Linked DNA regions of Homo sapiens. The protein of the gene in region 3 interacts with the protein of the main gene of each other region in a biochemical or structural test. Each region holds a gene or a part of one and is shown on either strand. Other genes may lie near its edges. The genes, in order: BAZ2A, BAZ1B, KAT8 and H2AC8.

The links.
Region 1: of the proteins of KAT8 (region 3) and BAZ2A, one has a biochemical effect on the other in vitro, tested with the Homo sapiens proteins (one study listed by BioGRID).
Region 2: the proteins of KAT8 (region 3) and BAZ1B form a complex in vitro, tested with the Homo sapiens proteins (one study listed by BioGRID).
Region 4: of the proteins of KAT8 (region 3) and H2AC8, one has a biochemical effect on the other in vitro, tested with the Homo sapiens proteins (one study listed by BioGRID).

The regions. Positions count from the first base shown.
Region 1 is NC_000012.12:56,627,114-56,635,741, forward strand, and holds the start of BAZ2A (bromodomain adjacent to zinc finger domain protein 2A), read right to left. Parts: upstream 3,214-8,628; 5' UTR 3,012-3,213; intron 2,659-3,011; exon of another isoform or gene 2,561-2,658; intron 1,631-2,560; exon of another isoform or gene 1,568-1,630; intron 2-1,567; exon of another isoform or gene 1-1. UniProt on the Homo sapiens protein: Regulatory subunit of the ATP-dependent NoRC-1 and NoRC-5 ISWI chromatin remodeling complexes, which form ordered nucleosome arrays on chromatin and facilitate access to DNA during DNA-templated processes such as DNA replication, transcription, and repair.
Region 2 is NC_000007.14:73,518,784-73,527,256, forward strand, and holds the start of BAZ1B (tyrosine-protein kinase BAZ1B), read right to left. Parts: upstream 3,511-8,473; 5' UTR 3,151-3,510; coding exon 3,044-3,150; intron 1-3,043. UniProt on the Homo sapiens protein: Atypical tyrosine-protein kinase that plays a central role in chromatin remodeling and acts as a transcription regulator. Involved in DNA damage response by phosphorylating 'Tyr-142' of histone H2AX (H2AXY142ph).
Region 3 is NC_000016.10:31,120,614-31,128,454, reverse strand, and holds part of KAT8 (histone acetyltransferase KAT8), read right to left. Parts: intron 1,421-7,841; coding exon 1,367-1,420; intron 1,267-1,366; coding exon 1,102-1,266; intron 406-1,101; coding exon 316-405; intron 1-315.
Region 4 is NC_000006.12:26,212,521-26,218,429, reverse strand, and holds H2AC8 (histone H2A type 1-B/E), read right to left. Parts: upstream 1,510-5,909; 5' UTR 1,456-1,509; coding exon 1,063-1,455; 3' UTR 993-1,062; downstream 1-992. Other genes in the region: H2BC8 (histone H2B type 1-C/E/F/G/I), read left to right, coding at 1,787-2,167. UniProt on the Homo sapiens protein: Core component of nucleosome. Nucleosomes wrap and compact DNA into chromatin, limiting DNA accessibility to the cellular machineries which require DNA as a template.

The DNA.
Region 1 (8,628 bases), on a different chromosome or scaffold from region 3:
CCTGGAAAATAAATAGTGAAAAGATGATTTAAATGACAGGCTTACGTAGTTTTCAGAATAGTCCAAATAATCTGAAAATGTTATCTTTCAAGGCTTGGCCCTGTGGCTTATGCCTGTAACCCCAGCACTTTGGGAGGCTCAATTCGAGTTCGAGACCAGCCTGACCAACATGGTGAAACCCCTTCTCTACTAAAAATACAAAAATTAGCCAGGCATGGTGGCGCATGCCTGTAATTCCAGCTACTGGAGGGCTGAGGCAGGAGGATCGCTTGAACCTGGGAGGCGAGGGTTGCAGTGAGTCCAGATGGTGCCACCGTACTCCAGCCTGGGCAACAGAGCGAGACTCCATCTCAAAAAAAAAAAAAAAGAAAAAGAAAAAAACAAAACTTTATCTTTCAAAATCTAAAATCCTGTGGTCCTGGGGTCATAGGCCGGGCATGGTGGCTCATGCCTGTAATCTCAGTACTTTGGGAGGCTAAGGCAGGCAGGTCACTTGAGCCCAGGAGTTCAAGACCAGCCTGTGCAAACTGGCAAAACCCCACCTCTACAAAAATTACAAAAAATTAGCTGGATGTGGTGGTGCGTGTCTGTGGTCCCAGCTACTCAGGGGGCTGAGGTGGGAGGATCACTTGAGCCAAAGAGGTCGGGGCTGCAGTGAGCTATGATGGCGCCACTGCACTCCAGCCTGGGCATCGGAGTGAGACCCTGTCTCAAAAAAAAAAAAAAAGAAAGAAAGAAAGAGAAAAGAAAAGAGAGAGAGAAGAGAAAAAAAAGAAAAGAAGAGAAGACCAGGCATGGTGGCTCACACCTGTAATCCCTGCACTTTGGGAGGCCGAGGTGGGTAGATCACCTGAGGTCAGGAATTCGAGACCAGCCTGGCCAACATGATGAAACGCCGTCTCTACTAAAAATAAAATAATTAGCTGGATGCGGTGGCGGGCTCCTGTAATCCCAGCTACTCGGGAGGCTGAGACAGGCAACTCGCTTGAACCCGGGAGGCAGAGGTTGCAGTGAGACAAGATCACACCACTCCAGCCTGGGCGACAAAAGCAAAACTCCGTCTCAAAAAAAAAAAAAAAAAAAAAAGACAGAAAGAAAAAAAAAGAAAAGAAAAAGAAAAGAAAGAAAAATAAAATTCTGTGGCCAACTGTTGCCCCTAACCAAATCCAGTGTGCCACAAAATGCCTGGGGACATAGCACACAGTCCATCACTATATGTTACAGGAGAAATATCCTGGGATTATCAAGTGAAAAGAAAGAAAAAAAAAATCTGGGCACGACTTTGCAGGGAACAGAGGAAAAGCTTACCAATCTCCAAGAAGAATAAGAGGGGAGACGTTCTTTTATGGATTAAAGAGTAAGTCATATGATAACAAACTGTACTATTCTAATTAGTTGATTCTGCAGAAGGTAGTATCTCCAGCACCCCTTAGTCAAATAACAAGCTTCCCACAGGGGCTGCCCTTAGGCTAGAATCACCACCAAGGACTGAGTTCACCAATCTCAGTCTGTTAATCAGTCCCTACCCCCGACACACAAATCCATCTAATAGTTAAATCTTCCTCACCCCTTCCTCTTCGTCCATTTCTTAGAATCTACCCTTCTTCACAAGCTCACTTGCTCAGGTGCTCTGCAATATAGAAACTGTCATAATAACTATACTAAAGTAGGACCCCAAGAAGCTACTCGTGCCACAAAAGCTCTCTAGTCTCCCTGACAGCTCTCTATGCTGAGGGAATTTGCATCACTTACATAGAGCGTACCCCGCTGGTAGATAACTGAGTTTGCTTCTCTATGACCTCTAGCTAAAGGGAAAACAAAACGAAACCAGACAGGAAGACAGAGATGTTCTGGAGAAGGGATTGGGATACGTGAGTCAACTGAAGTTGACTACTTCCAGTTGACAAGTTTACAAAAAAAAAAAAAGTCCAACGAAAGGTCTCTCGGGCCACATGGTTGGCAAGATCCAAGCTTGCCCAGAAGGCTTCAGAAAATGAAACCAAATCTGATTAAAATGGACATTTCAAAACAACAAGACACGCAGCAGCAAACGCACAGCTGCCATTTCCCGGCCACTTCCTGCGGGAGGCTGGGGGAGGGGCTGTTTGTGTACAGATAGAGGTGGAAAGCTATCCCCTCCGTCGTCCCCCAAAGCAGACAAATCTCTCACTCCAATTAACCCTACAAAGGACAACTGCTATTGACATTGCCTTCTCCTGAAAACTGGGAACACCGGGAAAGAAAGGGATGATGCGGTATCATCTTTCTGCCACGGAAGCGGGGATCCCCTCAGTGAGGAATCTCCTTGGAAAAAGGAATTCCTCTTTATTCTTCCCTTCTGCCCCTCAGCCCAGCTCAAATTGGAAAGCCTCAGCGGAAGCCCTATCAACCTCCATCCCCGGAGTGCGCGATTCTCCCGGGACGCGAGGGCCCCAAGCCAAGCGCAGCACCACCCTCAGCAAGGAAGGCCCTCTCCTGATCTTCACGCTCAAGAGAATGGGTGCGCTCCCCGAGGGAGACACCCTCAGACCCCTGGAAACCCCTTCCGCCCTCCACTCACCACAGTCAAAACGCCCAGCTCCCCGCAAACGGAGCGTTTTAACCCGCCAAGGGAACCCCCTCACCCACCCCTCGCGCTCAGGCAATCCCCACCCCCACCCGAGGAGGTGGAGCCCCTCCCGGGGATTCCACCCCAAGTCCCCCACAGGAGTCATCTCCACCAGCCAGGCGGCTTCTCCGCCTCCTCACTGTCGCCGGGAGCCCCTACAGCTCCTCCTGCCCCCGCGGCCCCGTCCGGGGTCCTCAGCAGCCCCACCAGCCCTGTTCTCCTCCCAGACCCCAGAGCAAGGAGACCCTCGCCTCGGGTTGGATCCTCGCAGGAAATAAGCTCCCGTCGGCTTCCCGCCCCGGCAAGGCTCAAGCCGGCTCTGGAGCTTCTGTTCCCCGAGGGAAGCCTCGGATGAAAGCGGGGCTCCCTCCCCCTCAGGCCCCTGGCCACAGACCCCACAAACCTGAGGCAGCGGCGTCCAGCCGGGCTCGGGGCTCGTCTCTCCCCGGGGTACAAGCGGTTCACATGGCCGCGCTCCGGGCGCCAGAACGGGTGGAGACGCCCGCTGGGGAGGGGGTCTGGGGTCCGGGGTTCGGGAAGGGGGAGGGGGACGCGGCTCAACCGCGGGGCCCGAGAGGAGCCAACATGGCCGGCGGGGGAGGAGTGAGTCGGAGCCGGAGGGGGCGGAGAAGCCTCGGCCGGGAGAGAGTCTCCCCACGCGGCCTCCGCCACAGGGTCCTAAAGCCCGCCAGCCCATCTTTCCGACCCGGACCTGGGTCCTAGCGCCGCTGTGCCTCCTGCAACTCTGGCCACCTTGCCCACCTGGCAGCTCCCTCTGCACCCGCATCTCATGGAGGCAGTGGTCCTGCTTCACACAGGGCAAACTGAAAGGCATGCCACAGTCCCAAGGTTAACTTAAAAGACTAGACCAAACGTCTAGGCCCAAAGGCAGGTGCCACTTCTCTAACAGGCTGGTAGGGGTAAGAGTCAGGGGAATTTCGGGGGCAGTTATTTCCCAGGTAGGGTAATGGAAACGTGGAAATAGAAAGGTTAGTCACTCAGGTCGCGATTCAGTAAAGGGATGGGGAGAGGCAAGAGTCAGCCACCCACTCACCTCTGTCCCTTCAGTGCAGCCTGGTCCTGCCTGGATCACCACTTTCCTGGCGACATCTGCAGGGCCCTGGTCACCGGAAAGGAAAGATTCCTGTGCGTGGGGGAAAGAAGGTTCGGCTCTGGAACCAGACAGCAAAGACCTGAGTGTAGCCTAAATGCAGTCAGAGAAGTAAAGGATAAGCTGAAAACTAATCAGCAAAAAGATGCCACAAATGTCCACCCATTCTATGGTTCTGGGAATTTTTTTCTGACAGGGCTACATAACTGTGTGAAAACTCAGAAAAGTAAAATCTAGCAGAGGACTAGAGTTTGGCTGTCACCTAAAATGTCCACTGCAGGGCACCAGGATGAAGAACAGTGTCATATGATGTTAGAGCTTAGAGAATTTCTAGTTCAGGCCGGACGCGGTGGCTCACGGCTGTAATCCCAGCACTTTGGGAGGCCGAGGCAGGTGGATCATGATGTCAGGAGTTCAAGACCAGCCTGACCAACATGATGAAACCCGGTCTCTACTAAAAATACAAAAATTAGCTGGGTGTGGTGGCGTGCCCCTGTAATCTCAGCTACTCAGGAGGCCGAGGCAAGAGAATCGCTTGAACCTGGGAGGTGGAGGTTGCAGTGAACTGAGATCGCGCCATTGCACTCCAGCCTGGGTGACAGAGGGAGACTCTATCTCAAAAAAAAAAAAAAAAAAAAATTCTAGTTCAACCTTCTCTCCTTCATCAAATGAAGAAATTAAGACCCAAAGAGGTTCAATGACTTCTTCAATGTCAAACAGTGGATAAAATATGACAAGAAAGGAAACCAGGTTTCCTTTCCTTGCAACTCAACACTTTGCAGCCTTGAAGATAATTCCCATTTAATTCAATGCAATGCAGTTCTAGAAACAGTTGCCTAAACTGTGCAAAGCTCAGGCTGCTGAATATTCTGGAAAAGCAACAGAGTGGGGATGATGAAACTCTGGCAAGTTGGGGTGTCAACAAATACGTTTTCCTCTGGGGGTCTGAGGAGGAAAGAGATCTGAAAAATGGGCAGAGTTGGGGGGTGAGATCCATCAGTCTACATTGGATTTCCTTACTCCACAGAGGGGTGGGCTCTTCCTGAATTTTGGGGAAAGACTCCACCCCTCCACCCCCCCACTACAAATGGCTCAGAGAGGATAAGAAGGAAGCTAGCTTTAGCAAAGGCTCACAGAGTGTGTGGGCCACAGACACAGAAGGCTAAGGGGGTTTCTCTTCCTCTCTCGAGATAAGTAGATTACCAGTGGAGGGAATAGGCAGGTGGAAACCAAAACCCTTCTCTCCTCCCTGTCAAAACAACAGATTTACAGGTCACCTTGGGGAAAAAAAAATACTCCTCCAACAGCCTGCTGACCTCAAGTCCCTGAGTAAGTAGAGGTCACACTCAGGGTAGAGGTTTCCTTCCTTCTGGAGAAAGGAGGGCTCTGGCAAACTTCTGCTAAGAAATGCCTCTCTATCCCCAAATAAAAAATTAAGGCAGGTGAAGAAAGGCATAAAACTGAGGCCTCAAGGGCGGCGGGATGGGGGTGTGGGTAAGGAAGCTGGTATCCTTTTGTCTTCCCTGCCCTTTTCCAGAGCAGATGAGGGAGAATCTTCCTACCTCCTGCTCCCAATCTTAAAGGGGGCCAGTCGGGGACTGGGCAGGCAGGGGAGGAGCCTGCGCCCGTCAGACGGGTGTAGCCACGCCCCTCCCCACACCCACACACACCCACCACTGGCTCCACTCTGCTCCGGAAGAGCCGGTTACTCCTGTGCCCCACTGACCGCCCCCACCCCTTCCGAGCCCCAGGCCTAGTCTCCAGGGCAACCTTTAGGACTATTCCAGCCAGGAGCGGTTAGGAAGAGGGGTGTTGGATAGGAGAGGACCACTTGGGATTAGAAAAGAAAATGAGGTAGGATCCATTCTTCCCATCTGGTGCAGAAAGACTACAATCATCCTCATTCCTGAATGAGACCCCACCTCATCTCATCTAATCAGGATCTTCCTTGCTCTGAGGAAGGATGAGGTTGGGGTGACAGTGTGCCCAACAGCTGGATGTTTACTTCTTGCTAGAAGTCACCCCATGCTGCAGCTGTGCTTCTCCCCCCATCCAGACGAGAGAGGGCAGACTGACCCCAAATGTCCCGAAACACTCCTCAATCCCATCAGATGTGGCTGATCACCCACCCACCTCTCTTTTCCCCACCCATTTCCCTTCAGGAAGCTACTAGAAAGGGGAAGGGGCAAATGGTCATTTTATCAGCAACTTGTAAGGAGAGTCTCCAGGGAATAGGCTGAACCTCCCTCAAGCCAGGCCAGTGGACTAGTCATGAAGAGAATGGGGAGGGACAAATTAGCACCTGCACCCCCTTTCTCACCCTCCCTGTGTTCCTGCAGCACCTCCCTGACTCTGGGGTCAGCTGCCACAGTGCCTGGCTCCACTCTGTAGCCAGATGGCTAGGGCTGGGAGGAGGAAGAGAGAGAAGGGGATTCGTTTGCATCCCTCTACATCCTTCCCTCTCCCCCACCAGATACTCCTGGCATCCAACCCCAAACACCACTGCTGAACACCCTCTCCTCCCCCCAGCACCCCCTCCAAACATGACTTAGAAGAGTCTGAAGCAGATCTTGGCAGCCAGTCCCCTAATTCTGGAAGTGAGGAGTGGGAAATGAAAGAGCATAGCTAGGGGCGCAGCTGGACTGGGGGTGGAGGGGGAATTCTCTAATGGAGGTGGGATAATTATTAAAGACCTGCCTTCCCCTCACTGGCTGAATGGATCATACTGTTAACAGGATCTGTCTAGCAGGGAGATGGCTCTTAGCCGGGTAACCATTCCAACTAGACCCCCCCACCAGGTTAAAGCAAAAGTCTTCACCCCCTCTACAATCTGGGAAGGCTAGATTCTCCCATAACACATCACAAGGAAAACACCCCTCCCCTTCTTCCCCCACTTTTGTTTGTTTGTTTGTTTTGTTTTGTTTTGAGACAGTCTTGCTCTGTCACCCAGGCCAGAATGCAGTGTTGTGATCTCAGCTCGCTGCAACCTACGCCTGCCAGGTTCCAGCCTGCCAGGTTCAAGCGATAGTAGCTGGGATTACAGGCACACGCCACCACGACTGGCTAATTTTTGTATATTTTGTAGAGACAAGGTTTTGCCATGTTGCCCAAGCTGGTTTCGAACTCCTGACCTCAAGTGATCTGCCCACCTTGGCCTCCCAAAGTACTGGGATTACAGGCGAGCACACTCCACCCGGCCCCCTTCTCCCCTTTAAGTCGACAGGTGGCTCCTCAGATTCACACAGACTTGTTTCCAAACTTCCCAATGGGATTCTCTATGGTGGTCCTGGAAGTTAGAGAAAGCCCCTATTTCCTAGGGAGTCGGGGGGCTTCCTTTGCATCTGAACAGAGAAGACTGGACTTCTCTTGCCTTCCCCATCGCCCCAACTCCCTTAGAGATTTAGCCCCAGCTCCCCACGCACTCTCTCCCAACTGTCCCTGAGGCCCTGAAGCACAAGATTCCGGCAGCGCCCTGGCCCCCAGCTCCCAGGTTCTGGGGGAGGGGCCTTCCTAGGCTGCACCGACCAACCCTAGGCCCAGGAGGAGAGTCCTTCCCACCTGGGCTCAGTAGGCGGTGCTGAGGTTGGACCCCAAGCTCCCGGAGATGTAGGGTGGGGTGAGGACTACAGAAAAGGTTTAGATGGGACTTAGCTGAACTTAAAGGGCTGAGCGGAGCAGGGACAGATAGTGCTGTCGATGTTGCTCCCCCGCCCCCCTTACTACGGGGAAGGAGAGGAGTTGGGGTGGGTATCCCCCCTCCCATTGGGGTTAGGAAGGCGTGGGAAAGCGCTAGTTCAGAGGGGAGGAGGCGAAACCCAGACCGCGGGAGATTTTTCTGGCGAAGAAGGCGCGGGGGAGGGGGAGATCCTGGGCCCAGAATAGGAAAGGTACTCGGGAGACGATGGCGGAGAGGCGTGAGAAGCCTCCGGATTCCGGTCGCGGAGGACAGGGGGAAAATGGGCGAGTAGATAGTTCAGGGGAGAGAGGAAGGGCAGCTCCCTCAGGGGGAGAGTCAGATCCCGAATCCCGGGGCAGCAGGGATCCCGGGGCAGGATACCGCAGGAACGGCCCGCCAAGGGACTCCGGAGCTGGAGGTGGGTGCCGGGCCTCACCTGGAGCAGGGCCGGGCCGCAGGCGGCGGCGGCGGCGGCAGAGGCGCAGGTGGCCGAGCCGGGCGGCGGCTGCGCCTCCTCCCCCAGCCCTGGGCCGGCGGCGGCGGAGGGGAGGAGGTGGTGCTTAAAGGGGCAGGAACTACCGAGGTGAGGACAACCGCTCAGGAGAGCAGTCGCGAAGGATCCACTGGGGGAGAGGATAGCGGGTGGCGTCTCCTAGGGGCCAGAACCAGGAAGGATCCCAGATGGGAGGAAGAGAACGGATCCCAGAAAGAGACAGAAACTTCTGCGGTGAAGTGGGGGATGGTGGTAGGTCCGAAAGGAAGGACTTGGGAGAGCTCTGCCCGCGCTCCCAGGGCACCAGCAAAGACCGCTTCACAAAAGAGGCCGGGGAAGGCAGAAAGAGCTACATGGGCTCCTAGGAGGCCTAGGGGTGCAGGAGAGGGAACTCAAGGCCGAGCCTGCTGGGGGTCACGCGCAGCGCCCTACTAGGTGAACTGGTTCCCCGTGTTTCAGCTCCTCAGGGCTCCATCCCTACGGCTGTGGGGCCTTTGGAATCAGGAAGCCACGAAGGCAAAAACCTCCTATCCTCTCAACCTCAATCCTGCGTCCCACTCAGTGCCCTCAGTGACTGTAGTGTGGGGGCCATCAATAGCAGCCCTGGTGAGGCTGATGTGGGACCATGAGAATCGACTTTGGTTCAGTTTTCCCCCAACCACCACCACCCTTGCTTCAGTCTCTGGGGCAACAGGAAGCAGCTGCTCAGTGCAGCCCCCACCTGAAGGTGGGTCAAGGTG
Region 2 (8,473 bases), on a different chromosome or scaffold from region 3:
CATTATCATACCCTCAATAAATTCTCACATAATGATGCTACAAAGGTCGTGAACTAGTTATTTCTAAGCTTTAGAAACTATGACAGTTGAAGTAACACAACAAAAATACTCATCTACAACACGCTGCTTGTAGCTCCAATTCCTGCCTAAAACCTATCTTGACTTAAATACAGTCAGTGTCACATCAAGAACTGATTCTGATAAAGTTAGTGTTTTCCAAGATCTAGTGTCCTGCCTGTGGGAATACCTTAGGAAGTAATGTACCATACAAAGCTACAGTACAATCAACATAATCACCAATATTTAACACCTAGTCATTAAATGTGTGCATTACTCACAACTTCCACTAAGTTTAATGAAGATTCACAATATACTCCAAGAACATACCAACATACAGCTTTAAGTCAGTAAAATATCACACAAAGTTCTGTGATACATGCAATCAAAAGGTAGGTATTAAAAGAAAATTAAAATATCAAGTCCCATTAAAAACATAATTGTAAATATAAGTTGAGAACTGGGAATACTACTTCAAAGGCAGCTGTTACCTAACCACATATTTGTTCTCCTCTATGAAACCACTAATAGCCTAATAAAGAAATATGCCAATCTGCCAACCATACAGTACAATTGTTTAAAAACCATCCTCAAAGTGCTTCCACTTGCAGAAATTCCCGAAAGAGCAATTTCCCCCCAATATATAATATGTTTTAAGACTTCTTTTGTTAAAACAGTTTTAAATGCTGTTATGGGAAATTAAAAAATGAAGAATGTTTATTAAATACATACCACTTAAAATGTTTCCGGTTTCAGTTTTAAATTGTTACCATCAAAACTCTTCATATATATATTTCAATTTCATTCATTCAATAATATGAAAAAGCCTGCGTTGCCAGTCCTAAATTAACTTCCTACAGCCATTTTTTACATAGCTCAGTACCTGAAATATACTTAGAAATTGTCTCTTCTCTATGGCATGTTTCTTATACTCTGCTAGAACCAGACCTGAGAAAGTATCATCTGAAAGTGTGTGAGCATCCATCAACGGCTCAAAACATTAATGACATTGGAAAAGTATATGTCGGATTCTCACAAGTTGCTACTCCACTGCCGATTCGAATGTATTAAAAAGTAGGGTACTGGCCAGGCGCGGTGGCTCACGCCTGTTAATCCCAGTACTTTGGGAGGCCGAGATGGGCGGATCACCTGAGGTCAGGAGTTTGAGACCAGCCTGGCCAACATGGTAAAACCCCATCTCTACTAAAAACACAAAAAGTTAGCCGGGCGTGGTGGCACGCGCCTGTAATCCTAGCTACTCAGGAGGCTGAGGCAGGAGAATCACTTGAACCCTGGAGGCGGAGATGGCAGTGAGCCCAGATCGTGCCACTGCACTGCCACCTGGGTTAACAAGAGGGAAACTCCGTCTCAAAAAAAAAAAAAAAAAAAAGTGGGGTACTTCGGTATAATGCAGTATTTGGTAGAGCTAGTGGAACTTCTCCAGAACATTCCAAGTCTTCACAGGACAAGAAAAAAACCAGATCACCACCCCTCCACTTTAAAGTGCCTTACCTTATACCATAATGACAAAAAAGTGAGGTAATATTTAAATTAATTGAAAGTGAAGGAGTAACATTCCACCTTCTTCTGTTGATTGACTTACAGGGATGAGGTAGGAAGAGCGGTGGATTCTACTCCTCTTTCATCATTTGACCTTCAACAAGTCAACCTCCACTCTCTGGGCCAACTCAGCAAACCAAGCCCGAGGACCCGACCACCTCCAAGATCCACTTCAGCTCCAAGATGCTACAGCTCTATTTCTCCAAGAGCCTTCCTCCAGCATGGACTGATTTTCCAGGCCCCTTTGTGTGTATACTCCCCACAAAGGGACACTCACAAATTGCACTCCAACAAGAATGAGATTATCCTCTAAAGTACTGCGTTAAAGTGAGGATCAGGGAGAAATGAAATAACTCTGAGAGACACTTCCTCCTATACAGAAGCAAGCAAGAAACTGAGAAATGAAGTCCTTCCGAACAGAAGGGGCTGAGAAAACTCATAACACATTAGCCTTCACTCTTAAAGCTTTCAGTCACCAAAGAAATGCTTGATTCCGAAATCGTTTTTGTTTTTTTTACAGATAAGCCTCAAAAACGATTCTTCTGGCACCCATTAAAAAAAAGCAAATAAAAGCTGCACAACTTTTCACTAAAAGATAATGCTTATGCAAGAAATCTTAGTCATGACGAGAGGATGCTTCCTTTGTAAAACATCCAATTTCATGTTCCTAAAATACAACATAAAAACTTCACGTCTTGGTTTTTTTGTTTGTTTAATTTTAACAAATACCAATCTCCTTCTAAACCTTCAAAATTTCAAACCTGTGTCTGCCCAGGGAAGGCAGGCATCAGCTCCTCCACAGGCAGTTTCCTTCCCTCCCTTTCCTCTAAGCGGGGAATCTCATTCCTAGTTTTCTGCCCCAGGGTCCTGTCAGTTCATCCCCGGCCTAAAGTCCCCTCGGGAGACGAAAAAAACGCCAAGTATCCCCGCAGAGATCGGGGTAAGACGCAGTTGAGTCTTGCACACGCCGCATCACGAGGCCGCGCGAGTACAATTTCAAAACTTAAGCTGCAGGTTTCATTTAAATTTTTAAAAAATTTTTGTAAAAATTAAAGGAGAAAACCTAGCTCCCCCTCCCCACGCCTCCTCCTCCCTCTCGGGTCCTCAAGGCCTAAAGCCAACCCGGGGAAGGTAATGGGGATGGGGGATGCGCTCCTCGCCGGCGAGGCCCCGGGACAAAGTGCGGGGCCCCGGGGGCGGCCGAAGCGGGCCCTTCTCCTTCCAGGGCCGGTGCGCGCCCCCCGCCGGATCCCCTGGAAGGATCGGCGGGCGCAGGCTGAGACTCAGCCTCCAGGCCCGCGAGCGGCCGGGGCGCGCTGACAGCTGCCCCGGGCCGGGGATGCGCGGCTGACCTGGTCTCGCGAGCCCCAGGCCCTACCCCGGCCCAGCCCGGCCCAGCCCGGCCCGCGCGGCTGGAAAAGGATACTCCCGGGTGCGGAAGGCCTCCTGAGTGTGCGGGATGGTGAAGAGCGGCTCCTCTCCGGGCAACGGCTTCACCAGCGGGAAGGGCTTGCGGCCCAGGAGCGGCGCCATCGCGGCGGCGGCGGTGGGGACTGGCGGCTGCTGGGGCCGGCCCCGCGGCGCAGCACTAGGCCCCGCGGCCCGGAGCGAGCGCCAGGCGCCCGGGGGTGGGGTGGGGGAAGGGAGGGGTGAGAGGGCGGCGCGAACTCCGGCTCCCTCACCGCCGGCGCGGCCGCGCGACAGTCATGGAGCGGAACGCCACGGCGCAGAGCTCCCGCGCACACCGCCGCGCCTCCCAGCAGCCCCCCGCCGACCTCCGCTTCGGGTCCCGGCGGCCGGCAGTCACGACTCCTCCTCAGCAGCACCGGAGGAAATTATTGAAAAATGGCGGGAGATTCCCCTCCTCCCCCGGGCCCGGCCAACGCACACACTAACTTGCTCCCCCGTGGCGCCGGTGGCGAATGCTCCAATAGGCGGAGAGCTGGTCAGCGCTCACAGCCTATTGGCTCGGAGGAGCTGCCGCTCCGCGCCTGGGTCCCGCCCCCCTGCCCCTGTCGCGTAGTTGGGTTGCAGCGCACTAGAGGGCAGTCTGAAGAGGTGAAAGGTCACGTTATGTAAGCGCCCGTGATAGGCGTGCGGGCCTCCGACGGCAGAGTTAAAAGTGGGGGACAGCGGGGGATGGAGAGGACGAGAACTCAAAGAGGTCAAGCCGGAGAAGCCCCTCGCATATACAGATACTGCGCCATCTGTCACCGACGGCGACACCGACATCCGGGCACCACTGTCCGTGTGGTGCGCCGGAGGGGGAGGGTGAGCGCGCGGCCAGGGGCTTTGTCTTTCCTCTTGGGCGCCTCCCCCTTCTTAAAGGCGCCGTGCTCGGCCACGCCCGGGGATGCGCGGGTGGGGCTGGGCTGCAGGGAGGGGTTGGCGGGAAGTGGCCCCGGGAGCTTACCCTACCAAAGGTTCTGCGGAAGGACAACGTGGGGGCCAGCTTTGCTCACCCCAGAGTTAACTTCTGGGCGGGAGTGTGGTTGAGATCTGGGTAGAAGTATACTGCTTGTTTCTAGGGGCTGGCTGGAAAGTAGAATATAGAAGCTTCTTTGGAGAAATAGATTAAAAGACGTACTTAGTTTTTTGGTTTTTGGTTTTTGTTTTTTTTGAGACGGAGTCTCGCTCTGTCGCCCAGGCTGGAGGGCAATGGCGCGATATCGGCTCACCGCAACCTCCGCCTCCCGGGTTCAAGAGATTCTCCTGCCTCAGCCTCCCAAGTAGCTGGAATTACTGGCGTGCACCACCACGCCCGGCCAATTTTGTATTATTAGTAGAGACGGGGCTTCTCCATGTTGGTCAGGCTGGTCTCAAACTCCCGACTTCAGGTGATCCGACCGCCTAGGCCTCCCAAAATTATCATTATTTTTTTTTTTGAGACGGAGTTTCACTCTTGTTGCCCAGGCTGGAGTGCAGTGGTGCAGTCTCGGCTCACTGCAACCTCTCCCTCCCGGGTTCAAGCTATTCTCTTGCCTCGGCCTCCCGAGTAGCTGGGACTACAGGTGCGCGCCACCACACCCGGCTATTTTTTGTATTTTGTAGAGACGGGGTTTCACCATGTTGGTCAGGCTGGTCTCGGACTCCTGATCTCAGGTGATCCACCCGCCTCGGCCTCCCAAAGTGTTGGGATTACAGGCGTGAGCCACCACGCCCTGCCAGAGCTGTGACTCTGGCTTTTTTTTTTTTTCTCCCATGATACTCAGCACCTGGCTCGGAACATTGTAGGTGCTAGTGAATACTATTTGAATGAATTGGATCTACCTTTTATTTTTTATTTTTTTTGTAGAGACAGGGTCTTACTTTGTTGCCCAGACTGGTCTCGAACTCTTGGCCTCAAGCAATTGTCCCGCCTCTGCCTCCCAAAGTGCTGAGATTAGGCGTGACCCACTGTGCCCAGCCAGGATGTCTCTTTAATAGGTACGTCTGGGCCGGGCGCAGTGGCTCACCCCTGTAATCCCAGCACTTTGGGAGGCCGAGGCGGGCGGATCACGGGGTCAGGAGATGGAGACCATCCTGGCTAACACGGTGAAACCCCGTCTCTACTAAAAATACAAAAAATTAGCCAGGCGTGGTGGCGGGTGCCTGTAGTCCCAGCTACTGGGAAGCTGAGGCAGAATGGCGTGAACCCGGGAGGTGGAGCTTGGAGTGAGCGGAGATCGTGCCACTGCACTCCAGCCTGGGCGACAGAGCGAGACTCCGTCTCAGGGAGGCGGGGGGGGGGGGGAAATAGGTACGTTTGGTCGGGCACGATGGCTCACGCCTGTAATCCCAGCATTTTGGGAGGCTGAGGCGGGCGCCTCACCTGAGCTCGGGAGTTCGAAACCAGCCTGAGCACCATGGAGAAACCCTGTCTCTACTAAAAATACAAAATTAGCCGGGCGTGGTGGCGCATGCCTGTAATCCCAGCTATTCGAGAGGCTGAGGCAGGAGAATCGCTTGAATCCGAGAGGGGGTGGTTGCGGTGAGCCGAGTTTGTGCTATTGCGCTCCAGCCTGGGCAACAAGAGCAAAACTCCGTCTCAAAAATTATAATAATAATCACAGTTCTATACAAAGTGCAGAATAAGAAAATAGCATCAACTATTTTAATGCTATTAAATGGGGAGCATTTCAGTTGCTTCTCCAAGCAGACAACACCCACATCCAGAATTTGTTTGGCTTTCCAGTACAATCAAAAACACACTCATTAAGTTATCTCCCTATTAAACTGTCTCCCTTAGTTTAAAGAACTTCACTTTAAAGTTTCCCAGCCTGTACCTTCCCAGCTGTACCTTCCCAGCCTGTCCTTCAACGGGGCTAGACTGCGAGGTGTCTCTAAATGCAGTCTCCTAATGTCAGACCTCTATCTCCTTTTCTTCTCACCTCAAGGATCTCCTATCCCCACTAGGAGGTCTAGGTCAAAAGCTACCTCTGTGAAGTTTCCTCTGATCACCTAGCAGAAAAGATCTCGGTTCCTTTTCCTTGAGGCAGTAGACTTTTCTCCCAAGAACAGCAGGAGAAGCCTTGCCAGAGCACATAGCGTTTGAGTTAATTGAGAAAAGAAAAGAGTTCTCTAGACAGAGAAGGAGGGACGAACATTATAGACAGAACAGCAGAGTGAAGCCTGGAAGTTCAAGATCGTGTGCCCAAAATGTGAGGATTTGAGGCAGAATATATCAGATGAGAATGGTAAAGGAAGTGACCATCCTGATATATTCTGTAATGGCTGAATCGGAGTGACTACTTAGAAGGGAATTACAGGGCTAGGCATGGTGGCTCACACCTGTAATCTCAGCACTTTGGGAGGCTGAGGAGAGAGGATACTTTGCGGCCAAGAGTTTGAGACAAGTCTAGGCAACATGGCAAAACCCCGTCTCTGCTAAAAATACAAAAATCAGCCGGGCGTGGTGGCGCATACCTGTAATCCCAGCTACTTGGGAGGCTGAGGCAGGAGAATTGCTTGAACCCGGGAGGCAGAGGTTGCAGTGAGCTGAGATGGTGCCCAGTCTGGGCGATAAAGCGAAATTCCATCTCAAAAAAAAAAAAAAAAAAGCAAAAGAAAACAATTTGATATTTCAGAACAGCATCTCACTTTGCACATGTGAACTGGGCACCATAATCATTTCAGCGCTTGGGTCCGCTGTGGGCTAGAATCCATTGCTGGGATTGGTGAAGATGGGATCTGAGATGGGAAAATCGGTAATGGGCTTGGTTTCAGCCATGTGAACTCCAGGTACCCTGAAGAGCCATCCAGAACACAGCCGGAAATTCTGAGGGAGGAAGTGGGAGCTGGAGGTGGGGCTTGGTGGTCACAGTACAGAAACTTGAGCTTCAGGAACCATATAGAGCTTATGAAGAGACCCCAAATAAAGAACAGTGCTCATCTCGGGGAAATGGATTTATGGTTTTTGCGTTTTGTCTCATTTTGAGACAAGATCTTGCACTGTCGCCCAGGCTGGAGTGAGTGCAGTGGGGGATCACAGCTCACTGCAACCTCGACCTCCTGGACTCAAGATCCTCAGCCTCCAGAGTAGCTGGGACTACAGGCACACACCACCATGTCCTGCTAAGTATTTTCTTTTTTGTAGAGACGGTGACGGGGATGGGGTCTCACTGTGTTGCCCAGGCTGGCCTCAAGCCCCTGGCCTCAAGGTTTCCTCCCTCCTCAGCCTGTCAAAGTGCTGGGATTACAGGCATAAGCCACCGCACCAGGCCTGGAATTACAATTTTTTTTCTTTTCTTTTTTTTCACCCCTCCTTTTTCACTGGAATTACAATTGATGTGATTTTCTTCTTTATATTTTTCTATATTTTATGATTATGTTTTTATAATGACTACATTATTAGTTTGTTTTTGAGATAGGGTCTCACTCTGTTGCCCAGGCTGGAGTGCAGTTGCACAATCTCAACTCACTGCAACGTCCACCTCCCAGGCTCAAGTGATCCTCCCACCTCAGCCTCCCAAATAGCTGGGACCACAGGCACACAACACCATGCCCAGCTCTTTTTTTGTGTTTTTGGCAGAGACAGGGTCTCACCATGTTGCCCAGGATGGTCTCAAATTCCTGAGCTCAAATGATCCACCCACCTAAGCCTCCCAAACTGCCAGGATTACAAGCGTGAGCCACCACTCCTGGCTCTTTTTCTTTCTTTCTTTTTTAAAATACATTTTAAAAACTATTTTAGGCCGGGCAGGGGTGGATCATGCCTGTAATCCCAGCACTTTGGGAGGCCGAGGCGGGCAAATCACGAGGTCAGGAGTTGGAGACCAGCCCGGCCAATATGGTGAAACCCTGTCTGGCTCTACTAAAAATATAAAAATTTAGCTGGGTGTGGTGGTGTGTGCCTGTAGTCCCAGCTACTCGGGAGACTGAGGCAGGAGAATCGCTTGAACCCAGAAGGCGGAGGTTGCAATGAGCCGAGATCGCGCCACTGCACTCCTGCCTGGGTGACAGAATGAGACTCCATCTAAAAAAAAAAAAATATATATATATATATATATATATATTTTAATAAAGACACGTCTCACTATATATTGCCTGGGCTATTCTCAAACTCCTGCCTCCTGGGCTCAAATGATCCTCTCACTCTGGCCTCCCAAAGTGCTGTAATTACAGTCATGAGCCACCGCACCTGGCCCTGGTTTTATTTCTCTTAATGGCTTCGCCTTCCTGTTTAGCCCACAGGCTCAGCCTCTGACCTCTCTCTTGAGCTCCACAGCCTCAGGGGCAACTAGATAACATCCATTCTAGCAGCCTAAAATCTTGAACTGTTTCCCCTTCCTGTCTTTCCACAGCACCTGCTTCAGGCCTTTATTATTTCTGCCCAAAATTGCTATGATACTGACTTGTTGCTTAAAAAAATGTTTTC
Region 3 (7,841 bases):
TTGTGCCTCAGCCTCCCGAGTAGCTGGGATTACAGGTGCGCACCACCACGCCAGCTAATTTTTTGTATTTTTAGTCGAGGAGTTTCGTCATGTTACCCAGGCTGCTCTCAAACTCCTGAGCTCAGGCAATCTGCCCACCTCAGCCTCCAAAAGTGCTAGGATTACAGGTGTGAGCTGCAGTGCCCGGCCCCTCAGAGGCATTCTGCCCATAGAGGCTCAGCTAAGGCTGCCCCCTCCCCTTTGGTGGTGATGAGGATCATCTGGGAGGTGCCCAGGGCCTCCCCGGCCTCTCCCAACCCCTGGCCACCCACTCACCTTATGGTCTTTGCCATCAACTTCGTACACGGAGATGTTGCTCTTGCGGTAGATCTCTTTCCCGGGGGGCTGCCGCCACTGGCACTGACCCTGGTCGGGGACAAGAGAACAGGTTCGCTGCCCATATGTTCTCTGCTAGGAGGCACCCAACCCACCACTGCATGCTTTGGAGCAAGTCTCTGCCTCTCTGTTTCCCCCCTCAACACTTCACCTACATCGAGTAATCCTCCCAGCAGCCTTAGGAAAGTGATCCTGCTTTTACAGACCAAGGCCCAGGCACAGAGATCCAAACATCACACAGCACGGTGGGGTTTTGAGTCTCTGTGGGCCTGGCTCTGGAGGGACCCGTCCATGACAATGGCTTCCCTAAACCACACCTATTCGCTTCAGATTCCACACTTCGGGAAGCAGCCCACTGTGTCAGTGATGAGAGCGCCCCTTCCTGACAGCCCCCAATTTCATCCACACTTAAGGTCCCACTGCCAGGGGCTATGTGTGCTTCCTGGGATGGAGCTGGCCTTGGCAAAAGACCTGAAGGGGGTGAGTTACTGTCCCCATTCCAGAGAAGAGGAGCTGAGGTCTGAAGTTGGCAAGGTCACCCTGCCAGCAACAGCAAAGCCAGGCCTGGAATCCAGGCCTCCTGACCCCCAGCAGCTCTTCCCTGTACTCGCTCCTTTGGGCCTGTCTCCTCCCTGGAGCTGCCGGCGCAGCCGCCCTCAGTCTCCATGCCTGCCTCTGCCTCTCACCGGGCCCCTGCCCAGCTCGGCCCGGCCGGCCCAGCCTCACCAAGTGGAAGCGGTAGCTCTTCTCATATTTCATGTACTTGAGGCAGTACTCGCAGAGCCAGAGCTTGGGCTGTTTCCCATAGTCTTCGGGGAATGGTGAGAAATACCAGGCATCAATTTCGTAGTTCCCGATGTGGATCTTGTCCACATACTTCACCTTGGTGATCTGCAGGCAGGGTGGGAGTGAGGCACAGTGCACGGCTCAGCAGGGGCTCCTCGGCAAGGGGAGACGGGGGACCTGCAGGCAGCTTCCCAGCCCCACTTACCGCCTCATGCTCCTTCTCCAAGGCTGCTGTGGTGGGGTCCATCTCTGCATAAGTCTGGGCCAGGAAAGAAAAGTGGGCAGAGGTGAACAGAAGTGGTGACCAGGCTGTCCCTCCCGTCAGGACCCACAAGGCTTCCCTGCCGTCTACCAGACCTCATTCCTGGATGGCAATAATAACCACACCAATAGCTAACCTATCTGACTTGGTTCTGAAGCTGGCTGGTCCAGACTCCTCTCACACCCACCCGCCCCACCCCCGATATCCCAGACATCCCTGATGTCCAAGTTTGGACCTTTTGCCAGATGAACAGGGTTAGGATCAGGATGGGGCTTCAGCTGCACGATGGGGGGCAATCCAGCTCTGCCAAAGTTGTGAGACTCAAATGAAATAACAGATTTGCCTTCCAGGCCCAGCGTAAGAACTGTTACTACCTCCCCGATGTTCCTGGACCCCTTTCCTGAGGACCAGACCCTGCCTGCCCATGCGACTGCCCCAGAGGTCCCTCCCACAGGGACAGCGGACTCAAGATGTGCAGAAAGGACCTCATCACTCCTCCCTGCAAACCTGCGCCTCCTCCTGGGTTGCTCATTTTACTGGGAACATCACCCTTGGTCCCAGTGTCCAAGACCCATAACTAGGCTTGCCTCAGACTACTCTCTCTCCCTCGGCCTGGCCAAGTCCTAATACAGTGGATGTCGAGTCTACTTCTGACATCTCTGGAATTGGGCCCTCTCTGGAATTCTCCTCTCTGTCCTGCTCCAGGTAGTCATGGCCCCATCTCAGGTCTGGACAATTTACTAGGCCGCCTCAGACTCCCTGCCTCCAGCCCCAGCCTCCTCATTGCTATCAGCAGCCCCCTTTTAGCGGCCTTCATGCTTCTGCACAAACAGCTCCTTCTACCTGGAGAATGCCCTTCCTTCTCTCACTGCCAGCAGAAAACACTTCCTCAGCCTGGCACGGAGCATGAGTCAGGTGAGTCCATGATGCTTTGTGATCTATCCTTTGTCACTGTTGTTATTGTGCTCTTTCCCATCCTTCAAGGCTTGAGATTCTTACCACCCCCTCCAGGAGGCCTGACTGGATTCTTCCCATCCAGAAAACATTCCCTCCTTCCCAAGTTCAGCGAGAAGTGGTCAACAGGGCAACACTGTCCAAGTATGCCCACCTGGGTTCCTCTATTTTTCAAGTCCTTAGAAAGCAGAGACTAAGAGTCACACCACACTCACAACACATCCTGCTCCTAGGCCAGACCCTGTGGGAGGAACCCAGTACAGCCTGACAATGGAAGGGGGACCCAAGACGGTCCATGACCTACACCAGGGCAGACAAGGCCCTGCCCTGTAGCTGAGAAGGGAGGAAGGAGCCAGTGCTTTACCCAGAACCCCCTCCACAAAGCACTGTGCCTATATGTTTATATGGCCTCATTTAATCCTTTCAGTAACCCTTACATAGAGTGTTATTTCTTTTTTTTTTTTTTTTTTTTTTGAGACGGAGTCTCACTCTGTTGCTCAGGCTGGAGTACAGTGGCACCATCTCGGCTCACTGCAACCTCCGCCTCCCAGGTTCAAGCAATTCTCCTGCCTCAGCCTCCCAAGTAGCTGGGACTACAGGCACATGCCGCCACATCCAGGTAATTTTTGTATGTTTAGTAGCAATGGAGTTTCGCCATGTTGGCCAGGCTGTTCTCAAACTCCTGACCTCAGGTGATCAACCAGCCTCGCACTCCCAAAGTGCTGAGATTACAGGCGTGAGCCACTGCACCCAGCTGCGTTATTTCAATTTTACAGAGTAGTAAACAGGCAGGGCAAGGTGAGGTCCCTTACCCTCGGGGACTAGTGAGCTGCCATTTATTCCAAGTGGCAAGCACGGCACAGACATGTTTTTTTTTTTTTCTTCTGAGATAGACTCTCACTCTGTCGCCCAGGCTGGAGTGCAGTGGGGAGATCTCAGCTCACCACAACCTCTGCCTTCTGGGCTTAAGTGATTCTCCTACGTCAGCCTCCCAAGTGGCTGAGACTACATGTGCCTGCTACCATTCCCAGCTAATTTATTTTGTTTTTTGAGATGAAATTTTGCTCTTGTTGCCCAGGCTGGAGCAATGGTGCAATCTTGGCTCACTACAACCTCCACCTCCTGAGTTCAAGCGATCTTCCCACCTCAGTGTCCCAAGCAGCTGGGATTACAGGCGCCCACCAGCAAGCCCGGCTAATTTTTTGTATTTTTGGTAGAGATGGGGTTTCACCATGTTGGCCAGGCTGGTCTTGAACTTCTGACCTTCAGATGATCCACCCACCTTGGCCTCTCAAAGTGCTGGGATTACAGGCATGAGCCATAGCCTTTTTTTTTTTTTTTTTTTTGAAATGGAGCCTCGCCCTGTCGCCCAGGCTGGAGTGCAATGGCAAAATCTCACGTCACTGCAACCTCGCCTCCTGGGTTCAAGCGATTCTCCTGCCCCAGCCTCCCAAGTAGCTGGGATTACAGGTGTGCACCATCACACCCAGCTAATTTTTTGTATCTTTAGTAAAGACAGGGTTTCACCATGTTGGCCATGCTGGCCTCCAACTCCTGACCTCGTGGTCTGCCTGCGCCTGGCCTCTTTTTGTATTTTTAGTAGAGACGGGCTTTCACCATATTGGCCAGGCTGATCTCGAACTCCTGACCTCAAATGATCCAATCATCTCAGCTTCCCAGAGTGCTGGGATTACAGGCATGAGCCACTGCACCCAGCCGACATTATTTCATTTTGTTCCTCACAATGAGCCTTTGAAATAAGAGTGCTCATTGTCCCTGTTGTATGAGAGAAAACTGAGGCACAAAGAGGTGAGGTCACTTGCCCAAGGTCACAGAACTGGTACTCAGCAGAGTTGGGCATGGGCCCCTGGTCTGTCCAATTCTGAACCTAACCACTGTAAAGATGAGGAAGAAAGATTTTCCTCCTCACACATCTCTTTAAAACACATTTCCCAATTCTCACAAAATACAGTACTCTTCTGCAAATGCAATAAAGAACTACAAAAACACTACTTTTCTTAATTGTTGCAATTTATTTAGAATTAAACATTAATTAGGCTCTGAAGAACCTTGCTGATTGTTAACTGGATGATTGTTTCATTACCTATTCTTTGATTTTATCACCACTGGCCCGTTATCCACCCTGCTGGTTGCCAACTCAGAGGTATGTCTTTGTTGAGTGCAAAACAGTTGAGGAATTAATCTTAGATCTACACTGTCCAATAAAGTAGCCACTTGTCACATAGGGCTATTTAAAATTATACTCAGCTAAACGTGGTGGCTCACGCCTGTAATCCCAGCACTTTGAGAGGCCGAGGTGGGAGGACCACTTGAGGCCAGGAGTTCCAGACCAGTCTGGCCAACATGGCGAAACCCCATCTCTACTAAAAATAAAAAATAAAAAATAGCTGGGTGTGGTGGCACACGCCTGTAATCTCAGATACTTGGGAGGCTGAGGCACAAAAATTGCTTAAGCCAGGAAGGCGGAGGTTGCAGTAACCCAAGAGCTCGCCACTGTACTCCCGCCTAGGTGACAGAGTGAGACTCTGTCTCAAAAAATGAAAATTTTGGCTGGGCACGGTGGCTCACACCTGTAATCCCAGCACTTTGGGAGGCCGAGGCAGGCGGATCAGTTGAGGTCAGGAGTTTGAGGCCAAACATAGTGAAACCCTATCTCTACTAAAAATACAAAAATTAGCCAGGCATGATGGTGCGTGCCTGTAGTCCCAGCTACTTGGGAGGCTGCGGCAGGAAACTCACTTGAATCTGGGAGGCGGAGGTTGCAGTGAGCTGAGATCGCACCACTGCACTCCAGCCTGGTTAACAGAGTGAGACTCTGTCTCGAAAAAATAAAAATAAAATTTTTTTAAAAAATGATAATTAATTTTTTTTTGAGACAGTCTTGATCGGACACCCAGGCTGGATGGAGTGCAGTGGCATGATCTTGGCTGACTGCAACCTCCATCTCCTGGGCTCAAGCGATTCTCCTGCCTCAGCCTCCTAAGTAGCCGGGATTACAGGTGTGCACCACCACGCCCGGCTAATTTTTGTATTTTTAGTAGAGATGGGGTTTTGGCCATGTTGGCCAGGCTGGTCTCAATCCCCTGACCTTAAGTGATCCACCCACCTCCGCCTCCCAAAGTGTTGGGATTACAGGCGTGAGCCACTGCACCCATAATTTAAAAATTTTTTTTTTTTTGAGACGGAGTCTCACTCTGTCACCCAGGCTGGAGTGAGCCCAGGATCTCGGCTCACTACAAGCTCCACCTCCCGGGTTCACGCCATTCTCCTACCTCAGCCTCCCGAGTAGCTGGGACTACAGGTGCACGCCACCACGCCCGGCTAATTATTTTGTATTTTTCAGTAGAGATGGGGTTTCACCATGTTAGCCGGGATGGTCTCGATCTTCTGACCTGGTGATCCACCCACCTTGGCCTCCCAAAGTGCTGGGATTACAGGCGTAAGCCACCGCGCCCAGCTAAAATTCTTAATTCTTCGTCACACTAGACACATTTCAAGTGCTCAACAGCTACATGTGGCTAGTGGCTACGGTACTAGATAGTACAGCTATAGAACATTTCCATTACAATAGGAAGTTCGATTCGGCAGTTTAGACCTTGAGGAGTTCTTCCAGTTTAGGGTATTTCAATTTTTTAAATCACACCACAGTAGGAAGTACACTTGGCACTGTAACATGTCTGTATATACACACAAGTATGTGCTAGGATCATCGGGAAGGTAAGGCTGGAACAAGAGGAATCCTGCACACTTTTATTGGGTGTGAAATAAAAGCTTCTCAAAACAATACCTACACTTAATAAAGTGCAACACCCTGATTTTTCTATCTTATCCACTTTCTTTCTTCCATTTAAAGAAATTTAAATGTTGGGCTTGCCCACTAACTCATGTACTCAGAAGGATGAAGCTGCAATAGCTGAAAGTAACAAATGTCTGGGTGTCTGGAGACTTTGACAAATCTTGCTCTGGTGTGCACTCCTGATTTTTATAAATTTAGAAACTGAGACTTGGTCGGGCGCAGTGGCTCACACCTGTAATCCCAGCACTTTGGGAGGCTAAGGCAGGAGGATCGCTTGAGACCAGGAGTTTGAGACTAGTGTGGGCAACATAGCAGATCCCGTCTCTACAAAAAAATAAAAAATTAGCTGGGCATGGTGGCACGTGCCTATGGTCCCAGCTACTCAGGAGGCTGAGGCAGGAGGATTGCTTGAGCCCAGGAGGTTGAGGCTGAAGTGAGCCATGATTGTGCCACTGCACTCAGCCTAGACGATAGAGTAAGACGCTGTCTCAAAAAAAAAAAATAACAATAATATGTACAATTATTAAGTATCAATACAAGAAAAAACCAAGGCAGGTACAGGGATGCACTCCTGTAGTCCCAGCTACTTAGAAGGCTAAGGCAGGAAGAACATTTGAGCCCAGGAGTTCAAGTCCAGCCTGAGCAACACACCAAGACTCCCGTCTCTTAAGAAAAAAACCAAAATCATTGCTAAGGCCTCTGGCTCTGAGGTAGCACAATTTAGCTGGTTGATCAAATTCCTGTCTGGGTCCCTAAACTTATCTGTAGCTCTTCTGCATGCTTACTTCACAGGCCTACTGTGAAATGTCAGTGAGGTCATGTATTAAAACACTTAGCTTAGGCCGGGCGCAGTAGCTCACGCCTGTAATCCCAGCACTTTGGGAGGCCGAGGTGGGCAGATCACCTGAGGTCAGGAGTTCGAGACCAGCCTGACCAATATGGCGAAACCTCGTCTCTACTAAAAATACAAAAATTATCCGGGCGTGGTGGCAGGTACCTGTAGTCCTAGCTACTTGGGAGGCTGAGACAGGAAAATTGCTTGAACCCAGGTGGCGGAGTTTACAGTGAGCCGAGATCATTCCACTGTACTCCAACCTGGGCGACAGAGCAAGACTCCGTCTCAAAAAAAAAAACAAAAAACAAAACACACACACACACACACACACACACACACAAAAACCATTTAGCTGAATACTTCTGCTCACCGGCTAACAAGTGTTTGGCATTATTATTCTAATTCCAGCCCACCGTTTTACTGGCTGTGTGACCTTGGGCATGTTACTTAATCTCTCTCAGCCTGCTTCCTCACCTACCAAAAAAGTAACTATTCCTGTGTGTTGAATTGTTGGGAAGGATTTGAGGAGCTTATACATATACAGCACTTGGCAGGGTGCTTGGCTATAGCAACTGCCGAATAACATTCTCGTCTTTCCCACTGAACTTCAAGTCATTTTTTCTACTAAGACACAGCTACTAGGAGACAAAAGAGGCTACCAGTGCCGGAGGCCTGAGTTCTAGTCCCAGCTGTGCCATTTCCTTGCTGTGAGACTGCAGCGAAGCCCTTACCCTCTGTCTGTTTTCTTACCTATGAAAAGTAAGTAAGAGGAAGTAGGTAAAGTCCCTGACACACTACAGGAGCTTAAGAAA
Region 4 (5,909 bases), on a different chromosome or scaffold from region 3:
GTGCTGGGATTATAGGCATGAGCCACCGGGCAGGGCAGGCTTTTTACTTTTTGTGGAGGTGAGGGGGCTGTCTCGCTTTATTGCCCAGGCTGGTCTTGATCTCCTGGGCTCAAGCGATTCTTCTGCCTTAGTCTTTCAAATTGCTGGGATTACAGGTCTGACCTAGGGCGTCAGGCCGTTACTGCTTAGTTTCGTTTAGTGTTTATTTTAGAATACTGTGTTAATTGCTCCTTTTGAAAAGAGAAATCCAACAAACACAATTCTCACTAGAGGAATGTAGTCTTTTTTTTTTTTTTTTTTTTTGAGACGTAGTCTTGCTCTGTTACCCAGGCTGGAGTGCAATAGCGTGATCTCGGCTCACTGCAGCCTCTGCCTCCCGGAGTCAAGCGATTCTCCTGCCTCAGCCTCCCAAGTTGCTGGGACTACAGATGCACACCACCACGCCCGGCTACTTTTTGTATTTGTTTAGTAGAGACGGGCTTTCATTATGTTGGGCAGGCTGATTTCGAACTCCTGACCCTATGATCCGCCCTCCTTGGCCTCCCAAAGTGTTGGGATTACAGGCATGAGCCACTGAGCCCAGCCGGAATGCAGTCATCTTTAAAACTTAAAAAGCCCGCCCTGAAATGCTAATGGGCAGCTATCCTTCTTTGTTCTCTCGTTTCTGTATTAATATTTCACCCTTTTCTGACAAGTGCACATGAATAAACAGCCTGTGTATTAATGATAAATTTGTATACACAGCATGGACCTATACACAAAATAACGCAGTGAAACCTTGGTGTCACAACCTCGGTTTCTATTCTTGTATACCTTTATAAACGCATTTTTACTGCAAAGAAACACCAGTAAGATAAATTAGTGCATGAAATGTGAGCAAGGATTTCAATAAAGAACTGACCAGTAACGTCAGAAGCGTTCGTTAAAAATTAGGACAGTGAACATTGAGATTTCAGGCATCGTATGTGTATTCCAGCACTTTACAGAAAAGGTGGGTGGCTCTGAAAAGAGCCTTTGGTTTCTGGGACTCGGGATCACTGACGGATTTGACTAGTAATCATTTCACTTGCCCTTGGCCTTATGGTGGCTCTCCGTCTTCTTAGGCAGCAATACGGCCTGGATGTTGGGCAGGACACCGCCCTGCGCGATGGTCACGCGACCTAGAAGCTTATTTAGCTCCTCGTCGTTGCGGATGGCTAGCTGCAGGTGGCGCGGGATGATGCGGGTCTTCTTATTGTCGCGAGCCGCGTTGCCAGCTAGCTCTAAGATCTCGGCCGTCAGATATTCCAGCACCGCTGCCAGGTACACTGGAGCGCCGGCCCCGACTCGTTCGGAGTAGTTGCCTTTGCGGAGGAGGCGGTGCACACGGCCAACTGGAAACTGAAGACCGGCCCTGGAAGAACGCGTTTTAGCTTTTGCCCGAGCTTTGCCGCCTTGCTTTCCACGTCCAGACATAGTGGCTTCCTAACAGCAGAAGAACTAACAATCCACTGAATAAAGAAAAAGAATGGGCTCGATGGAGGAATAAGAAGCTAGTTATAGTCATCGGTAGAATTGTGAAAGGCGCAATTTGATTGGTTAAAATTGTTCTTTGACGAGCCAACCAATTAGAAAGGAAATAAGGTGAAGGCTATTTTACATGTATGCGTCACTAACACATTGCCCAATCAGAGCTGGATATTTTGAATTCTTTATTTGCATGAAAGGCCTATAAAAGGAGAGACTCTAGACACGAGCTTTTATTTAAGTGCGTTCATTCTCACTGCTGTTATTGTTTTCTGACAGCATGCCTGAACCAGCTAAGTCAGCTCCTGCTCCGAAGAAGGGTTCCAAGAAGGCTGTGACCAAGGCGCAGAAGAAGGATGGCAAGAAGCGCAAGCGCAGTCGTAAGGAGAGCTACTCCGTGTATGTGTACAAGGTGCTAAAACAGGTTCACCCCGATACTGGCATCTCATCCAAGGCCATGGGCATCATGAATTCCTTCGTTAACGACATCTTCGAACGCATCGCAGGCGAGGCTTCCCGTCTGGCCCACTACAACAAGCGCTCGACCATTACCTCCAGGGAGATCCAGACCGCCGTGCGTCTGCTGCTTCCCGGAGAGCTGGCCAAGCACGCAGTGTCCGAAGGTACCAAGGCTGTCACCAAGTATACAAGCTCCAAGTAAATGTGTGCTTAGGTGCTTTAAAACTCAAAGGCTCTTTTCAGAGCCACTCAAGTCTCACATAAAGAGCTTTAATATTGAATTTCACCGTTTTCTAGGGAATAATTTTTCCGATTTTGTAATCCCAGCACTTTGGGAGGCCGAGGCGTGCGGATCGAGACCAGTTTGGCTAACGTGGTTAAATCTCGTTTCTACTAAAAATACAAATATTAGCCGGGCGTGGGGCAGTCGCGTGTCATCCCAGAGACTCGGGAGGCTGCCGCAGGAGAATCACTTAAACCCAGCAAGCAAAGGTTGCAGTGAAAAGACATGGCGCTTTTGCATTCTAGCCTGGGCGACAAAGGCGAGGCTTCGTCTCAAAAAAAATTGATCAGGAGATACTCCTGTTCTGTGTTGGCAAGATCCTGTAATCCTAGCACTTTGGGAGGTCGATGCATGAGGCTTTCTTCAGCTCAGGAGTTAACAGATTTGCCTGGGCAACATAGAACTCGTCTCTGCAAAAAAATGAAGCTAACCAGGTGTGACGGCTTGCGTCTGTACTATCATTTACTCGGTAGGCTGAGGTGGTAGGATAGCTTAAACTCTCGGGCTAGAGACTGCAGGAACATGTGAATACGCTAGTGCAATTCCAGCCTGGGCAACACTGGAAAGGGTAGGAAGAGTAGTCTTTGGGTCCCTAAAGATCACCTGATAACAAGTTTGACTTTTCTGAGCACTCTTGTGGAGTTTGTTGTGGAGGGAATACCATGGGCATTGGCAATGTAAAGTTGATCTAAAAAATCTCGTTTTCCGCCGTGCGCGGTGGCTCACGCCTCTAATCCCATCACTTTGGGAGGCCGAGACGGGCGGATCACGAGGTCAGGAGGTCGAGACCATCCTGGCTAACACTGTGAAACCCTGTCTCTACTAAAAAAATACAAACAAAATTAGCCGGGCGTGGTGGCACTCACCTGTAGTTTCAGCTACTCTGGAAGCTGAGGCTGGAGAGTCACTTGAACCCGGGAGGCGGAGGTTGCAGTGATCAGAGATCGCGCCACTGCACTCCATCCTGGGCGAAAGAGCTAGATTCCATCTCATAAAAAAAAAAAAAAAAAAAAAAAAAAAAAAATTACAGTTTTGGCTGGCTGGGCGCAGTGGCTCTCGCCTGTAATCCCAGCATTTTGGGAGGCGAGGCTGGTGGATCACTTGAGGTCAGGAGTTCAAAAACAGCCTGACCCACATGGTGAAACCCCGTATCTACTAAAAATAACAAAATTAGCCGGGCGTGGTGGCGCATGCCTATGTTACCCCAGCTACTTCGGAGACTGAGGCAGGAGAAACGCTTGAAACCGGGAGGCGGGGGTTGCAGTGAGCCAAGATCCCGCCATTTCATTCCAGCCTGGACAACAAGAACGAAACTCCGTCTCAAACATAGAAACCATTAGTTTATACTCATTAATCAAATTTCTAAAATGGGACCAAAAAAAAAAAAAAGGTCACTACTCCATAGTACTCCATGAGCAACCTCAGGTTTCTGACAACATAGTACTCCAAAGTATGGCGCCTTGACATAGTAAATATTCTAAGACATTAGTAGAACAACATAGACAAGAATGTTCGTATGACCTTCCTCTGAAGCAGGTCTTAAGACCCTCCTGGGAGTCTTGCAGAGTATGCGAGGAATCTGAACAAATAAACCTTGCTAGATTTCTCCTTGTTTATTATCCTTAGCTCATATTATTTTTGTCTTGTTATATTTCTGCATGACTCTCTTCATCAAACCTAGTGCAAACACACTCAGGTTTAAGCCCTTCTTCAGGTCCTTATTTCCTTATGTCATGTAAAACTTCATATTAAATGTGAATGTTTTTCTCTTGGCCGGGCGCGGTGGCTCACGCCGGCTCACGCCTGTAATCCCAGCACTTTGGGAGGCCGAGGCGGGCGGATCACGAGGTCAGGAGATCGAGACCATCCTGGCTAACACGGTGAAACCCCGTCTCTACTGAAAATTGAAAAAAATTAGCCGGGTGTGGTGGCGGGCACCTGTAGTCCCAGCTACTCGGGAGACTGCGGCAGGAGAATGCCATGAAGCCGGGAGGTGGAGCTTGCCGTGAGCCAAGATCGGGCAACTGCACTCCAGCATGGGCGACAGAGCAAGACTCCGTCTCAAAAATAAATAAATAAATCAAAATAAAAATAAAGTGTATATTTTTCTGTTGTTAATCTGTATTTTGTTTCAGGGCCCCAGCCAATGAACATAAGATGGGTAAAAGGAAACGCTCTTTCCTCCCCTACAACATACAGTAGGGGTGGGTGTGCATCTGTGTTCTGTGTGTTTGTCTTTGTGGAGTACAAAAGCTAGCATAACATAGAAAAGGTGTGGAGAAAAGTATTCCCAGAATGAAAATGTTTGAGAAGTGTGTTCGCTAGGGCTGCCAAAACAAACTACCAAAGACTGTGTGGCTTAAAAAAATTAATTTTGTCACAATTCTGAAGGCTACAAGTTCAAGATCAAACCAGTGAGCATGATTGATTTTTTCTGGGGCCACTCTCCTTGGGTTTTCCCCTCTCTGGTCTTCCCTGTGTGTGTGTGGGTTGTGTTTTAATATCATCTTATAAGGACAGCAGTCAGAATAGATTAGGACCTACCCTTAAAACCTCATTTTACACCTTTAAAGACCTTATCTCCAAATAGTCACATTTTCAAGTAGTTGGTATTGGACTTCAATGTTTGAATTGTGGGCTGACTTGGATTTCAGTCAGGCAATTCAGTCAATATCAAAAATTATGGTGATTAGGCTTCTAAATAGTACATGAAATAAGTATTTCACAGGCATCTGAAACTCAGCACAACCAAGACAGACCTTATGATACTCTACCTGGCTTCACTTACTCATCCAAGTTTGAAATCTAGTCCCCATTCCAGACTACTCCCTTTTCTTTTCTGCAAATATTTAAAAATATACAAACTCATTGATTTTAACTTCTAATTTTGTTAATATTGTCCATATTTTTGTTTACTGTGGCTAACAACTGGAAATACTAATGTTGAAGAGTTGGACTTTGCCTAAAACTAGGTTTTATCCCTAATGGAATATTATGCAGCTGTTAAAAAGAATGCTTTAAAAAAAACGACATAAAATATGCTCATGGCATTGTATGGGGTAAATCCAAGTTGCCAAGTAGTGTATTCTTATTTACATGATGTCACACACACACACACACACACACACACACACACACATATAGTTTTAGGAAAAAAGAGTGACTATAAGGGTCAATGCCAAGATGTTAACAGTGCTGTTACATTTTTTTTTTTGGTGCAACAGACAGCTCCTCTAAAGATAACTTTCTCTATTTGTCTCTATCCCAAACTATCAATGGTGTGGTTAAGAAATAGGAAACTCGGCCGGGCGCGGTGGCTCACGCCTGTAATCCCAGCACTTTGGGAGGCCGAGGCGGGCGGATCACGAGGTCAGGAGATCGAGACCATCCTGGCTAACACGGTGAAACCCCGTCTCTACTAAAAATACAAAAAATTAGCCGGGCGTTGTAGCGGGCGCCTGTAGTCCCAGCTACTCGGGAGGCTGAGGCAGGAGAATGGCGTGAACCCGGGAGGCGGAGCTTGCAGTGAGCCGAGATCGTGCCACTGCACTCCAGCCTGGGCGACAGAGTGAGACTCCGTCTCAAAAAAAAAAAAAAAAAAAAAAAAAAAAAGAAATAGGAAACTCTCCCTAGGCCCTTTCCTCTCCAAGTCTCCCTGCTG